Regions from separate parts of the Homo sapiens genome. Here region 1 is linked to region 2. A link means that fine-mapping ties the variant in region 2 to the expression of a gene that starts in the linked region. Tissue or cell type: blood mononuclear cells. Region 2 holds a variant in brackets; the other region holds the start of a gene. All regions are shown on one strand. Distances are from middle to middle.

Region 1 (8,182 bases), 150 kb before region 2:
TCACTGCAAGCTCCGCCTCCTGGGTTCACGCCATTCTCCCACCTCAGCCTCCCGAGTAGCTGGGACTACAGGTACCCGACACCACGCCCGGCTAATATTTTGTATTTTTAGTAGAGACGGGGTTTCACCGTGTTATCCAGGGTGGTCTAGATCTCCTGATCTCGTGATCCACCCGCCTTGGCCTCCCAAAGAGCTGGGATTACAGGCGTGAGCCACCACACCTGGCCGATGTTAATTAATTTTGTAGGGAGGTTGTGAAAAATTATCAGCAATAATTCAATCTGTCTCAGGGGTAAAGTAGCTAGACTTGACTTTTTGAGATGATTCACTTGGGAAGTTGTGTGGAAAGCAGATTCGAGAGAGGTGATGCAGTAGTCAGAGGGACCAGTGAGAAGGGCCAGGTGAGACTTAGTGAGAACCTAGGCTGAGTAACAGTGAGCTGGGGGGAAATAGAGTTGACTGAAGAAAATTATATGATATAAAACCATCAGGACTAAAGACGTAGGGTCATTTATGGCTGGTTTTCAGAAATCTCCATTTAATATACCCAACTTAAAACACTGTCCTAGCTTCCCTTGCAGCTGGGAGGTGATTATATGGTAAGCTCTGCCTATTAGAACATAAACAAAATTCACTGGGTCAATTACCAGGATTTTTTTTTTTTTTTTTGAGACAGGGTCTCACTCTTTCGACCAGAGTGGAGTGCAGTGGCACGATCCTGGCTCACCACAACCTCCGCGTCCCAGGCTCAAGCGATTCTCCTGCCTCAGCCTCCCGATAGCTGGGATTATAGGCACGCACCACCATGCCCAGCTAATTTTTGTATTTTTAGTAAAGATGGGGTTTCACCATATTGGCCAGGCTGGTCTTGAATTCCTGACCTCAAATGATCCACCTGCATCGGACGCCCAAAGTGCTGGGATTACAGTTATGAGCCACCGCCCCCGGCCACCAGGAAAAGTTTTTAAAGGGGCATGTGCCCCTTTGCAGTTGTTATTACCTTCTTCCTGCCTTACACGTAGCTGGATGGCTAGAGTTCCACCAACCATGTTATGGACACGAGGCAATCATCCCAAAGGGGACTGAGCTGAGAGAAGGAGCCTAAGATTTTGACGACCTCATGAAGATACCATACCAGCCCTCAGCTGCCTCTCTTTAGAATACCAGGTAGGTGAGAAAAAATAAATGACTTTTTTAAAGTGACTGTTTTTTGAGTTTCTGTTTTTAGCAGTCAAATGAAGCTCCTGACACCATACATGACCTTAGCAACATGAAGCAACATTATTCATTCATGCAGATAATTATTATTCTGAATCAATGACCAAAATTAGAAACATGAAAACCTTAAGGTGATCTAGCTCAACTGTAATCCACTGCTAGTGTATATAATTTGTGGAGACTTTTTTTTTTTTTTTGGCTTTCCTTCTTCCTTGTCTTCCCAACACAAGTCTAATTTTTCCTCTCAGCCATCTCTCTGATTTCTCATATCTATTTGGTGTTAACTGATCAGAGGGAGTTAGCAGAGAAGGGGGCTGGCTGTTTCATTTTAGAATACGACTCTTGAAGAACCCGTGATGGAGGAATAAACAGAAGTCCTGGTTCCTATTTCTAGACAAGAGGCTGCCCAATGTAATATGTAATATCAGTAATAGTAAGGTTGCATTTCTGTAGGGTGGCTCGATCAAGCGCTTCTTGTATACCATATCATTAGCTGCCCGAGGGCCAGTAAGGTCGGATGGTTTGTTCAAGGACAAGAACTAACAAGTAACAGAGATAGGACTTATCTTTTTCTGACCTTCACTTTCCCTTTCTGTGACAAAACTGGTCTTAGGAACTGTGTTGAGCAGAGCCTTCTGTGGGCGTGAGAGCGGCTTGGAGGTGTCAAAGAAAAATTGCATCCGATATAGTTAAACAGACAAGGGGGAATTATTCAAGGCTATTGCAATAGGGAAGAGAGAGAGGGAGGGAGAGGGGAACTAGTAGAAGACTAGTGGAGGAGATTAGGATGGGAAGTTGGTCAGTGTAATGAGGCCATTTGTGTTTCCTAATTGGAACTTATTAAAGTTAGGCTCCTCCTCTCCACAAACACTAGGAGATAGGGACCCTTTTTTCCTTGATGATTACATTTCAAAGGGATGCCTCACAGATCCCTGAGAAAGATCCCCAGGCTGTAAAACCCAGCAAGAGGCGGAGAGATTTACATGTCAAAGGGTCAGAGGAAACATTCACCAATGGAAGTTGGCTAAAGTAAATGCTCTGAGAAAAGGAAGGTCTGGGGCCTACAGTTAGGAAGAAACCTGTCTAAAGTTTAGTTAAGCTGAGGGGAATGTTAAGGCCATTTGGTCACCGTAAGCAGTACCACATTTCCTTGCCTCTCCCGGGAGCCAGGTCTCAGTGTCCCCAATAGGGGACACGCACTGACCGGCGGGTGAAGGGACTGATTTTGATTATCATCCTACCAGATAGAGATTATTCCCTCTGCACCCGGGTTAACTGAAACCCGGTGGGGGTAGATCCTTGCCATTTTCCGGCCCTGTACCCCACTGGAAATAACATGCGGTGGTCAAGGGCATCCACCTCTTTAGGCAAAAGCATGTTTTCAGCCCAGAGACGATTCCACCCAACTTTACAAGAGGATAGCCCAAAGATAGAAGCCAGGGACTCAGACTTCCTCCTTCCAGAAATAACCATCATAAAAAAGCCGACCCAGTAAACGCCTGGCAGCCTGCGGCATAGAAGAAAATGGAAATCTCCTTGGCTGGCATTTCAGCTTGCCTGAGGGGGCTTGCTTTGCTCCGAGGGGAGGTGACTGTGCTGACCTTAAAATCCAGGTTTCAGGAAGCAGGAGATGAAGGTATTTTATTTTCGCCTAAAGGCTTTGATATTTTTCAAATAAAAATTTAAAAGATCCAGTACCTTCTCCCGAAGCTTCTTCATAGAGTAGTGGATTTTTAGAAAACACAAAGGCCTAGGGGTGGGGCGAGAGTGGGGGGTGGGGATGGGTAGCCCCATAAGAGCAGTGCCCTGACGCCTCTTTTCGCCCTTTTCAGACCATTTGGATTTTCTTAAGCTGCCCCTTTCCCCAACCCCCGTTTTTGCCATTTGCCTCTCCTCCCATTCTCCAAAGTGCAAATAACTGGTTATCCCTCAGGTCCTGCTACCCCATCTTTCCTGATCCCCGATCCCTCCAAATACGAAGCACCTCGCATTTGGGTCAGCAGCTGTTTCCCCTGCCTGGTGACAAGGCCGGTGTGCAGAGGGCAGAGGAGGGAGCTTCTTCCGCCACACGGTGGCGCGCGCGAGCCTCCCAAAGACCGGGCGGCCACAGCTCCTCACCTTCTCCCCATTCCAGCCCCACCCGCCCGGGCGCAGAAAGAGCCGCGCCCCCAGCCCTCCCGGGCAGGACAGCCGGGAGCGCACCTCGAGGGCCCGGGCAGCGGTCGAGTGGCAGCTGCGTCCAGCCCATGCGGGAGCTGCTGCGGGTTACGGGTGGCCCCAGCTCCAGGCTCCTCCTCCAGCCGGTCCCCCACCCTCCACCCCTTCTCGACTCCGCTCTGCAAATCGAAGGCTTTCCGGAGCAGCCTAGGAGCGGCCGCGGGCGCAGCGAAGGCGGCAGGAGGAGCGCAGCAGCCTTCGGGCAGCCGCGGCGGCGTCGCTAGAGCAGCCGGGGAGGCGCCGCGGTGCCCGGCGCGCCCTCCAAGCTAGGAGAGGGGAGAAGCCGGGGGCTGCAGCTGGGCAAGGGGGAGGAAAGTGCGTGTGCGTGCACGCCTGTGTGCAGGGCAGAGAGTGCGGGGGGCGACAGTCTCGGCTTAGGGCGGAGGAGAGGGCAGGGGAACGGCGGTGCAGCTCCCCCGCTGTCCCCGAGGATTTCCCGCGGCAGCCCCGGGCTCCCCAGTGCCCCTCACCATGGACTTGCGCGGAGTTGGGACGGGCCTCGGCAGCAGCAAGCGGCTGGCTGCCGGGCCCTGGGGGAGCGCGGGCGCGCGCGCGGGGATGGCGAGGTAGGATGGCCACCCAGCGCGACCCCCGCCGCCCCAACCCAGCGGCCCCTGGGCGGTGCCGCTGACTCGCCGGAGCGCACAGGGGTGTGGGCGGAGGCGGCCTCGCCGCGCCCGCGCCTTCGGGAGTCGCCTCGCCTCTTCCACCCACTTGCACCTGCCACCCCGCGGATACCATGTCGAAGGCGGCCGGAGGCGCGGCGGCGGCTGCGGCGGCGGCGGAAAGTTGTTCCCCAGCCCCGGCCGGCTCGTCCGCGGCCCCGCCCGCGCCGGTGGAGGACCTGTCCAAAGTGTCGGACGAGGAGCTGCTGCAGTGGAGCAAGGAGGAGCTGATCCGCAGCCTGCGGCGCGCCGAGGCGGAGAAGGTGAGCGCGATGCTGGACCACAGCAACCTCATCCGCGAGGTGAACCGCCGCCTGCAGCTGCACCTCGGCGAGATCCGCGGCCTCAAGGTGAGCGCGGGCCAGGTGGGGAGGCGCGGCGCGGCTGGGAGCGGGGTGCCCCGAGGAGGAGGCGGGGCCAGGCAAACTTTCCCTCCCTCCCTCAACAGGTGACCCTCCCCTTCTCCCGGTCGGCACCCCCTACCCCCAGTCCCCAGCCCCTGTGTAACTTTTCCAAACTTCGGAGGCGTCTGCTCCCCTCCTCTCCCCAACACGGGGCGCTCCACTGTCTGGCTGTTCGGGGAGGCGCTGAGGACGCTGGAAAGCAGGGAGGGAGGTGAAGGGCACGCGAACCTTTCATTTCTTAGGGAGGCTGGAAAATCTGTGCCTGGGGAGCCGGGTTTCAGTCAGTTAGGCGGAAAGGCCAGTGAGGGGGTGAATCCAGGGGATCTTCGCCTTGGAGGGTCGGGAATGCGGCTGCTCTGGGCCAGCAGCTCTTGGGCGGGCAGAGGGCGAGGAAAGGGCGCCACTGCCAGGGAGAGCGGCTGGCGGGGCGCCCGGGAGAAGCAGCGGGCGCCACCCTCAGAGCAGTCTTGTGTCACCGGGTACATAGGAGTTCAAGCTCTGCCTTCACGTCTTCTCCCAATTCCTGTGCTTTCCCTCTCCCGGAGTTTGGAAGGCATCCCCTGGAGTTGCCTTACTCCCCTTCCCACTTAACCCCAGGTTGACTGGGGGAAAGAGGAGGAGCAAAGAGACTCAGTATGGAAGGAGCAGCATTTTGACAGAGTACCCCAAGTGTTGGTCAGTGATGGTTTCTTTCTGAGCCAGCCCCCCTGCCACCCTCTTCTAGGAAAAGAAGGGAAACGTACCCCAAGCCCACTAACTTTCTTTTCTCCTTGGAGAGCGCCGGGTCTGCGAGGAGTGTGCCTGCCCAGCTGCAGTACACTAGTGGCCGGGAACCGCCCTGCTGGCGAGCACCACAAACTTCCTCTCCTTCCAGCTAGCGCTGGTGCCTCCTGGTATTCCTTCCTCTCATTGTTCTGCTTTGTTTGTAGGAAGCCAGACACAAACGAAATCACTGCAGGGACTTCAGGGAGCAAATTCCCGAAGGCACAAGCTGTTCTTTTCCCCTTTCCACTCCTATCCCCACATATCAGACAGTAGATGCTGTTCCGGAATTGCCTCAGTGCTCCAGCTCTGGGATTCTGGGGCAAGAAAGAGTGGGAAGAGTGGAATGCTCAAGGCTCACCTATGTGCTGGGCCCAGTTCAGGTGGAGATGGCCGTCTCCCGAGGCCGAAAGTCATTGTCATATAGTCCCTAGAGTGGGTGCAGGTAGGAAGATTCCTCCAGTCAGAAAAATGCCAAGGCTTACTCTCTCCTGTGGTTGAATTCATTACTAACAGAGTGTTTATTAAGTGCCAGTCTCTTTGGGGAATAGAGGCAGGCTAGTGTAGTAGGAAGATGATCTCAGAGGTGGGTTTGAATTCTAGAAACCTCATTTGCCAGGAGGGTGAGCTTGGGTAATTACTTTCTCAGATCCTCCTTTTATTCACCAATACAATGCAATGATAATAACTTTCTGAGGGTGTTATGGCAATAAGTTATGATTATGTAGGGGAAGGTTTAATACTTGACTATAAAATGGTAGTTACTGTCATCAGGAAAGGACTTACAAATCTATGGCTGTGTGTCCCCAAGATTTTGGTTTCTTAGGCAGAGCTGGACAAGGGGGCATTAGTTTGTCATCCTCTAATTTGAGTTTCTTCCATGGTCTGAACAATAGTGTGATTTAGAAGAGTTGGAAGAGTTATTATTAAATGTTTTAATAGTATGGAGCATCAAAATAATAGCTCAGAAACACTTGAAAGTTCCTTTAGGTTATGTGGATTGACTGTGTGTGATGTCTGTGTGTGGGTAGGGGAGGGGAATGGTAGAGTGGGTTGGTAGAGTGCCTGGGCTTCATTCCAGTAGCTTCATGTAGAGAAGTAGCTATTAGGTCAGCTAAAGGCCCGTACACCCAAGTAAGAAAGTCTCCTTGTGATCTAGATTCATGACCTGGCATTAAAAGACTTGCCAGTCTACTTCCTTATCAAGTTCAGAAATGATGGGGGCAGGTTGCTTTCTGATGCAGCTTCTACTCTTCTCATGTCATCCCTGGGCTGCTGCAAGGAGCGGACTCCCAGGCTTCTGGCCCACCCTGGGTGTGCTGTGGTTTTACTCTTTGGAGAGGCCAGCCTTCTCCCTTCTCTTTTTTATTTTGGCTCAGAGCTTCCTTGGACACCATAGTAATCCATAAATGTGGTTGATTGAATAAATGATGGGTACATATATTTATTTTGGCTTAACTGGAAGAAAAGAAGTATTTTTTTTTGTTAAGGGCGTGGGGGAGCGTCTGAGGGCTTGGCATTCTCAGTTGAGAACTATAAATGTAGGGGAATTAAGACCATAATACATTTTCTTTTTTATGCCTCTTTCTATGAGCTGACTTTGAAATTGCATCTAAATATTTGTAAGGCTACCAGGTGTTATTGTAGCTGTGGACACAGGAGATGGCAGCATCAGTTCTTTACTTTTCAGGGGCCTGTGGCCGGGTCCTAGCACTGATTGACTTGTTTGTGTTTAGATATTTGGGAGGCAGGGCAGTGCAGGGGCCCTGAGAAGTGGAAAGATAAAGAATTTGGATTCTGATAATTTGGGCAGCTTTGGCCAATTGTTAAACTCTCTGTCTCTCGGTTTTCTCATCTGCTCATGGGGATTTTAATTCCACATGAGGTTTTATGAGGATGAAATATACCATAGATGAAGAAACCCCAGTGAAGTTAGATAGTTTTCTCAAGGTCACACAGACATAAAGTGTTCAAAATCGGCCTGCTTTCCTTTTCTTTTGGCTAGTTGACATTCTTTGCTTAGAATGTGTGGTCCTGGAAGGGGTGGATGAGGGAGATTCTAGTTAGGGTTATGTTGTAAGGAACTGGATTCCTGAGAACCATGTCTTTGGACTGCTGAGCATATACCAACACTTCAGGCTGCTCTGACCCAGTATCCCAGTTGGGGGCTGATTCGGGATGAATCTCTGTAGATTTGTTTTCTTCATTGCATTAATTTCCCTCCTTGGTTCCTAACCCAACCACCGACCCGCCCACCACCCTGCTCTGCAGTGAAGCAAAATAACAAATTAAAACAATTATTTAACTGTAGATACAGTACTTGATAGTCTTCAGGCATAAGATTGAAATTTTGGTTGGTGTGCTACGAAGTGGACTTAACCTTTTAAAAGTCCACTTAGACACTTGGATAATTTCTGGTGGCCGGTGGCAATGTTAAAAGGACACCTAGTGTTTTGCAAAAGAAAGCCCAAGTCTTAGTGAGGCAGATTTGAAGAAGCTGGATCACAAGGTTATTATCAAGCTGGCTGCTTAGCTGTTCATCAGAAGGCAAAGGAAATAGCTCAGAACTGAATAGTAAATAATATTCTCAAGAAAACTAATAATAGAAAGAGGGAACTGTGATATAGAAATGGGAGTGGGCCAATACTCACTCCTATCTACTCCATCTGGAGTGCTGAGAAGTGTATGTTTCACTCCTTTTGGAAAAGGCATTAGCTCCGTGAAGCCGAGGGTAGCACCAGTCCTGTTTACTTTCCAGCTCTAGAGAAATCAGAAGTAGCTGTAGCATAGTCAAAGGGAAGTATTTTCCTATGAAAATTTGTTTAGATGAAAGAGAACATGACTTGAGCTTTCTATCAAATGCCAGGATTAAACTAAATGTTGAATAATTTTTGGAGCTTAGAAAGATTAATTTTC
Region 2 (8,182 bases):
GGATTTCTGCATGGGAGGAGGGGAAGAGGAACTAACTGTCATCTCTTTTGGGTAGGCAGAGAGAAAAAGGTCTGAGAAGAGTAGAATTTGCTTCATAAATAGTGGACTAGGGCAAAATCTGATATCAATTTTAGATTATTTAGGGCAATTAAAGCCCCATTAAAAATTCTATTTCTGTTAATAAGGCAGTATGAATTAAATATCCAGGCAAATCTGAAAGTGCTGGTTCCAACAAATTTTTTTTAAAATAAGAAAAGCGTCAAATTTTAGTGAGAAATATAATCACTTATACTTGTGGAGTTAATATGGATTCTAAGTAGGAGGCTGACCTTTGCTTGCCTGAAGAAGAAAAACACTTTGTTCAGAACAGTAATAATTTTTAAAATACACAGTTCTGACGTAATTTCCTTAGGGATGTGAAAAAGCCTGTGGATAGTGGGATTCATATGGAATGAGTGCAAGCCATGCCTTTAGCGCTTGGGGTTTATTGAAAAGTTTGTCTGTGAATTGGAAAGCATGTGGCTATTGGCCTCTTTTGCTGAGAGAGACTATCTTAGTCCACTTTTTGCTACTATAACAGAATACCACAGACTGGGTGATTTATAGTGAACAGAAATTTATTAGCTCACAGTTCTAGAGACTGAGGAATCCAAGATCAAGGGGTTAGTATTCAGTAAGGGCCTTCTTGGTACATCATGTCATGGCTGAAGGTAAGACAGCAAGAGGGGGCCAAACTCATCTTTTTTTTTTTTTTTGAGAAGTAGTCTTGCCCTGTCACTCAGGCTGGAGTGCAGTGGCACAATCTGGGCCCACTGCAACCACTGCCTCCCAGGATCAATCAATTCTCCTGCCTCAGCCTCCTGAGTAGCTGGGATTACAGGTGCCTGCCACCACGCCAGGCTAATTTTTGTATCTTTAGTAGAGACGGGATTTCACCATGTTGGCCAGGCTAGCCTCAAACTCCTGACCTCGTGGTCCGCCTGCCTCAGCCTGCTAAAGTGCTGGGATTACAGGCGTGAGCCACTGCGCCTGACCCAAACTCATCTTTTTATAAGAGCACCAATCCCACCCATGAGGGTGGAGCCCTCATGGCCTAGTCACCTCTTAAAGGTCCCACCTCTTAATACTGTTACAATGACAATTAAATTTCAGCATGATTTTTGAAAGGGATAAACAGTCAAGCCAACACAGAGACTAATTCTTAGAGAGCCACATAAAAGCTAACATCTATAAACTCATGGCCACTATAGTCTTCCAGATAATTTTCCTCATATACACTCTTTATTTATTTATTTATTTATTTTTTCAGATGGAGTTTCACTCTTGTCCCCCCAGGCTGGAGTGCAATGACACTGTCTCAGCTCACTGCAACCTCCACCTCCCAGGTTCAAGCAATTCTCCTGCCTCAGCCTCTCGAGTAGCGGGAGTACAGGCATGCACCACCACACCTGGCTAATTTTTGTATTTTTAGTAGATACGGGGTTTCACCATATTGTCAAGGCTGATCTCGAACTCCTGACCTCAGGTGATCTGCCTGCCTTGGCCTCCCAAAGTGCTAGGACTGTAGGTGCAAGCCAGTGTGCCCAGCCTCCTCTTATACACTCTTAAAAATGCTGTAGTTTGTGTCAGAATGGACCATTACCAGATTTTATTTTCTGCCCTGAGATTTTGGAGAGATGACATCACTTCATCTAATCAAAACCACTCAGAGGTGTGACAAACCTTAGACAGTTGCAAATACCAATAATAAACCTTTTATATACAATCATCAGTGTAATTTGTGGGTGATTTCAAGGATAGGTGTTCTGTAGGGTAACACTGCCTTAGAAACAAAAGGGAAGTAAAGAGGGTTTCATATTTTTATCAGAGTGTTTTCAAACTAACAGAGAAAACGAACAGAGCTCCTTTATACAATTGAATGCATTGCAGGTTAGCTGAAGTGAAATCAAGTCAAGAATATTGTCTGAGGAAATATCAAGTTACTGTAAAGGTAAATCCATCAAGAATATCTAAAGTCAGGGAGGAAAAAAAAAGAATTTAGTATTTATCTATGTATGTTACTTCATGATTAGTAGATCCAATATGAGAATTAATGTGGTGCTCGAGTAATGAAACACAATTGTTTGAATATATTTGACTAGTCCCCATTGTTAGCAACCAAGTTCATCGCACTCTGAGCTTTAGTTCTCTTATTTGCAAAACAAGTCAGAGGATTGTGGCAGAAGTTGAATTAGAAAAGCTCTAAGGTACGTAGTACCAGTAAAATTTGAATTTAGAAGATGCGGAATTTAATGGAATTTTTATGCATGTTTCTTAATTTGTTTTTCTTGCAACAGATGCTGTGAACTTTTACACATAGGTTCAAAGAATAGTTCCTGCTTTGAAAATGGGCCTGAGATTCACCCAAAGAACATCTTGAGGATGTCATTGGATTTTCACATCAATATCGTTTGCTTCACCTTACTTTTCTAATGTCTAGATGCCCATAGGTTTCCCAGGGTGGAAAGAGAAATAAAATAACTTTTGGGAGCTTTAAAGCAAATTGCCACTGGATTATCGTGATTTGATATTTGCTTTTCCAGATAGGTGACTGTGGGAAATAATCTGGCCTCTCCTCCTGTACCTGCATGTCCCTTTCTTTTCCGTCATGTGATTCCTTTCTTTCTGTGTTTACAATAGGATCATTTTTGGCTTCTGGCCCAGGTCCATCTGTGGCTCCACTCATATCTCTCTGGCCTATCAAAATTCTATTGATGCATTTTAAGCTTCAGTTTCTCCTTCGTAAGAACTACTGCCAATGTTGATTTTTTTCTTTGCTCCCCTTTCACAGGATTTAGTACTAAATTTCAAATTACCTTATTGTTTTTTCCCTTTTATTTTCTCCCAACTGCTTATAAGTTTCTTGAATATAGGCTCCTTTTTTTTTTCTTTTTTTTTTGAGACAGAGTATGGCTCTGTCACCCAAGCTGGAGTGCAGTGGCACGATCTCCGCTCACTGCAACCTCCGCCTCCCGGGTTCAAGCGATTCTCCTGCCTCAGCCTCCCGAGTAGCTGGGATTACAGGCAGCTGCCACCATGCCCGGCTAATTTTTGTATTTTTAGTGGAGACAGGGTTTCACCATGTTGGCCAGGATGATCTCGACCTCTTGACCTCGTGATCCGCCTGCCTCAGCCTCCCAAAGTGCTGGGATTACAGGCTTGAGCCACCTAGCCAGCTCCTTTTTTAATGCATTATATATTTATGTACTTTGTAGCTGAGAATTTGGCTGTTTTTTGATGCTCTTTTGGAGCCTCATTCTCAGAGTTCTAAAAGCCAAAAATGGCATTCTGAAATCTCAGTTTTATGAAGCTGTCAGCCAGTGGTATAAAATGTAATGGTCAATTTAAATTATGGTACATTCAAATGCAGCTTTCTATTAATGACTTTATGATAAAATGAATGCCAGTTTTAGACACTTCCCTTAGGTACAGCTATCCATCATGTTCCCTGAGTGTACCGGGAGATCACCTTATATTATAGTTGACACCCTTGAAAAAGGACAAAAAAGGGAAA[T/A]AGCAGCATGGGGAAGGGGGTTGCAGCGGATGTGGTCAATGTGTTCCAGTACCCAAAAGGCTTCTTTCTTCTCTTCCTCTCACCATGAGAAGTTTCTATCAATTTTTCCTAATGATTAGCTATGACTGAGATGTGGATTTGGATGTGACTTTTTTTAAGAAAGTGTTGAGTTTCTTATACTTTATTTTATTCTATTTTATTTAAAATATAGCTTACATTTTAAAAAATTTAATTATTGGTTATGCACTACTAGTCAGGCTCAGCTGACCTATGGTAAGTAACAAACCTCAAAATCCCAAGGGTTTAACGAAACAAATATTTCTTCTTTTTTTCTCATGTCACAGTTGGGAGATTGGATTTTTTTTTTAATGGCTTTTCCTATAGGGGCTTGGGGACCCAGTGCTGATCTCACAGTATATTCCAGAAAAATATTTTTCTACTCCACTCCCATTAAAGGATGGTGTAATCAGTTTCTTTCTGAATGAAACAAAACAGCCTGAGTACTCTTATTTATACATGTAGATCAGATATTCTTCCTGTGTTTTACCCCCAGGAAGAGTGTATTTTTGTTTGAGTATCCATTAATTGTTAAGTAATAATTGCAACAGGGGCTAAGAACCTGGAACAATTAACAGGACCTTCTGGAATGCCTGTAATCTAATAGGGAATGTGTGTTCTGAGAAAGTTATTAAGGTTTGCAATAACTGGCTTTATCTTCATCCTAACCCTAGAACAGTGCCTGACACAAATCAGTGACACAATAAATATTTGTTGAATGAATGAACTTAAAATGTTTTTGCCTTTGCCTTCACTGTAAAGCCATTTTTTTTCATTATTTCACCTGTTTAAAACTATGCTCTGTCTCTTCCTGTCCCAGCCCATATTTGCAGTGAATGCTTTAGAAAAAAGATGTGGACATGATCTATTGTAATTCAACATTAAAAACGAGAGAGGATATTTTCCAAACTCAGGAATTTACCCCTTTTTTCCTGAACTGACATAATACTTTCATAATATAAATAGAGACTTGGTGAAAACATCAGATATATAAACTGCAAAGATTTTGAAAAGAGAAATAGATGAAGGGATTGAAGACAGTCACTGAATTAAAACAAATTCCGTTCAATAGCATTTTTCAAATTTCACCTGACTCAATCTGTGTAGTCTTTTCAGCTGCTTTAAGTATCACAGCCTTATAGATAGTGCAGCATAGGGGCAATAAAGATAAGGTGTAAATTGTGAACAAAAAAGAAAATAACTTTATTTTTGTGTGGTTTAAATAGAATATTGCTGATGAACTTTTCACTTGGATGGCCTTATCAAGTGGTTTTTTTTTTCCAGAGGAAAGAGCAGGGCTTGCAAAACAGTGTAAATCAGGCAATCTACATTCACATCTTGATGATCTGCAAATCACTGAATTCATTTGCAAGAGTAAAGCAGACTCATGAAATCAATAACTTTGCTATTCATTTATGCTGCATACTTTTCCCCTCTTTGGAAGAGTCCATAAAGCAGAGTTTTAAGATTTTATTAAGCTAAAAAAATGAGAGGATATCTTTAGCAAATATCTTCAGTTTTCTTTACCTGTGTTTCTATTTTCTTATTTGAGAAATGCTCAAAGCTAATTGTCTCCAATGGTGTGAGGTCTGTGGGTCATCATGTTAATGTCAGTGATGGGGGCTTTCTGCACACTATTTTGGAAAACAGGCCTGCTCTAAGCTAGTCAGAGATGAGCTTAATTGTTGTATTTGTGAATTAAGGACTGATGCTTATGTATTTTAGAAAATAAAGTGTTAGCTCATTGCTTTAGAGGTCATAAAAATAGAATTGGGTTCATATAAACTATTTCCACATAAAATAATTGTGTTTCCATGATGAAATTCAGATCAGGGCATCAATATCCATCCTAACTGTGGATCCTTAGGGGCTCCAAACACTTAGGTGCACTACCGTATTGCCTCTTGCCCTTTTTGTGTGTCTGAGGCTGAAGAACATGAACACTGAGGAGGTTGTTCTGCTTCAATATTAACTATGGAAGTGTTACCAGTAGCGAAACCATATGAGTCTGCAGCAGCCCCAGTTCTTGCCCCTAATTCGACTGAGGGGCATAAAGCAGAAGAAGAAGCCGAGGCAAGTTTTAGAGCAGTAGTGAAAGTTTATTAAAAAGCTTTAGAATGGCTGTGCGTGGTAGCTCATGCCTGTAATCCCAGCACTTTGGGAGGCCGAGGCGGGAGGATCTTTTGAGGTCGGGAGTTCGAGACCAGCCTGACCAACATGGAGAAACCCTGTCTCTACTAAAAATACAAAAAATAGCCAGGCGTGGTGGCACATGCCTGTAATCCCAACTGCTAGGGAGGCTGAGGCAGGAGAATCGCTTGAACCTGGGAGGCGGAGGTTGTGGTGAGCCGAGATCGCGCCACTGCACTCCAGCCTGGGCAACAACAGTGAAACTCCATCTCAAAAAAAAAAAAAAAAAAAAAAGCTTTAGAGCAGGAATGAAAGGAAGTAAAGTACATTTGGAAGAGAGTCAGGGTCAGGTGGGTGACTTGAGAGATCAAGTGCACTGTTTGACCTTTTGACTTGGGTTTTATACATTGGCGTACTTCTGGGGTTTCATGTCCCTTCTACACTGATTCTTCCCTTGAGATGAACTGTCCACATGTGCAGTGGCCTGCTAGCTCTTGGGAGGGGAGCATGTGCAGTGTGTTTACTGAAGATGTATGCACGCTCACTTGAGGCATTCTTCCCTTAGCCGTCTCGCATTTCCAGAGGAAGATCATATACCAATTAAACTGCTATTTTTCCTCTTAGTACACACGCTTGAGACCACTCGCCCAACTCCAGAGATCTTACTGGGGAAGTGGTAATCAACAGTACCAGGTTTTTTCTATCTATTGGGTTGACTGCAACTAATTATTATTTTAGAGAGACAGTTAACAACCACCTGACTATCCCGTGATGGTTGCCTGACATTCTTGGTGGGTGGGCTTGCGGGGAGCCCTCTCCTGCCTTGCTCATGTTTGACTAGCTACCTAATGTAACAGAAGTGTGCTCTGGAGAAAGTCTATTGCTGTGTACCTTTCACTGCACCTGAAATATTTTGTTGTTGTGTGATGAATGAATTGCTACTATGTGATGATCTTGAATATTTTCACTTTAATGAAGAAGAGTTACTATCAGATTGTTCCCAGAAATAAAATTTTACTTTTCTTCACCTGTGACCCCTTTTCCTGACATAAAGCCATAAACTTTAGAGTTCAGTATGGAACAGAAGCTAAGCATGATAATGATTCTGAGCTTTCAGCTCATGCCTGAGCTTGTGAAGAAATGAAAAAAATAGTCAATTTCAGGTCTGCTCCTGGTTTACCTAAAGATGTGTGAAAAACTTGGGTCTCTGTCACAGTCAGCCAAAATCAGTCAAAATTCATTCTAACTCTAAATAGCTCTTTCATGTTTTTTCTGTCAATGTCTGTAAGTTTGTGAAAAGAACAAATATTTTTCTTAAGTCTTGAAATTTTTATTGGGAGAAATAAAGAGAACTGGATGTTTGAAAAATTTTGTTTTATTTTCTGTTTTTTTTTTTAATGTAGCTTTGTAGTTTATTTTGGTTATAGTTAACATTACAAAATAGTCTTGTATATGTAGAACAACTCATTGACAACTCAAAATGTACAAAATCAGAAGAAAAGAGTATAATTGTCTTCAAGATGCCTATTATTCTGAGGCTGGTTGGTGTGCAAAAAGCCTGCAGTCTCACCACCTATAATTTTCTCTAATACTTTTTTTTTTTTAAATTGACCTCAATACACTTTATTGCAGAACAGGAAATACTAAACATTTAAGAAAGATTTGTGGAAAACGATTTGACTTCAGAAAAATATTTGTTCCATCTTAAGAGGATCAAACTTCAGAAATATTTTTAAAAGTCTTCCTCTGAAATGTCTCAATTCTTAGTGATTAAAAATAGCTAAAAGGGCTTAGAGTAGTGGAGAGACTGGATTTCGGTATTAGATTCAGGTTTGAGTTCTGGTTTTGCCCTGTTCTAAGTGTGCGTGATTTTACTAATTAATAATGATGTTGGACTGCTTCTCTTAGGTTTATTTGTCTAGTGTGTTTCCACTTCTGACAAATATTTTCCATACCTTTACTTGTGTTTTCTTATTGGTTTGTAAGAGTTCTGTATAGAATCTTAATACTAATCGTCAATTGTGTGTACTACCACCTGTAAATATGCCAGTCTGTGTCTTATCTAATATTTCTTAACGTTGTAAAATTGTTCAAAACTGTTTTTAGTTTCAGTGGCTTCTGTTCTTATTTTTCTGGGAGATATTTTTTTTTCTCATTTTAAATAACAGACTAAATAGTCACTGTCTGATTTGAATAAATCAAGCCAGAAATATCCTGACAGTACACCAAACAAGACCTGTGTGTATAATGTGAGTTCTTTCTTTTTAATTTTAGAATCAACCTTGTCCTATGTTAGGCAGCTGGAGGCAAGAGTAAGACAGCTGGAGGAAGAAAATCGCATGCTGCCCCAGGTGGGTGACTTCCAGAAGCTCATAGCTAGTCAGTGCCATTTAAGTTGTAGTATTTTATTTGGAATTTAAAAGCTCAATGACGTTTTGTCTT

The links. PIP is the estimated chance that this variant, and not a neighbour inherited with it, causes the effect.
Region 1: it holds the start of CCDC85A, and the variant in region 2 is fine-mapped to the expression of CCDC85A in blood mononuclear cells (TOPMed, PIP above 0.99).

The regions. Positions count from the first base shown.
Region 1 is chr2:56,180,451-56,188,632 of GRCh38, forward strand. It overlaps CCDC85A (coiled-coil domain containing 85A), which reads left to right and starts at 3,540. Exons shown (of 6, transcript NM_001080433.2): 1 at 3,540-4,450. The coding sequence starts at 4,175. It overlaps LOC100129434 (a long non-coding RNA gene), which reads right to left and starts at 5,320. Exons shown (of 3, transcript NR_125368.1): 1 at 5,248-5,320. RefSeq lists a silencer at 3,210-3,539.
Region 2 is chr2:56,334,865-56,343,046 of GRCh38, forward strand. CCDC85A (coiled-coil domain containing 85A) reads left to right here. Exons shown (of 6, transcript NM_001080433.2): 3 at 8,015-8,091. Among named protein-coding and RNA genes, the nearest start is that of CCDC85A, 150 kb to the left of the region's middle. The variant T/A (reference allele first, on the strand shown) is at 3,554.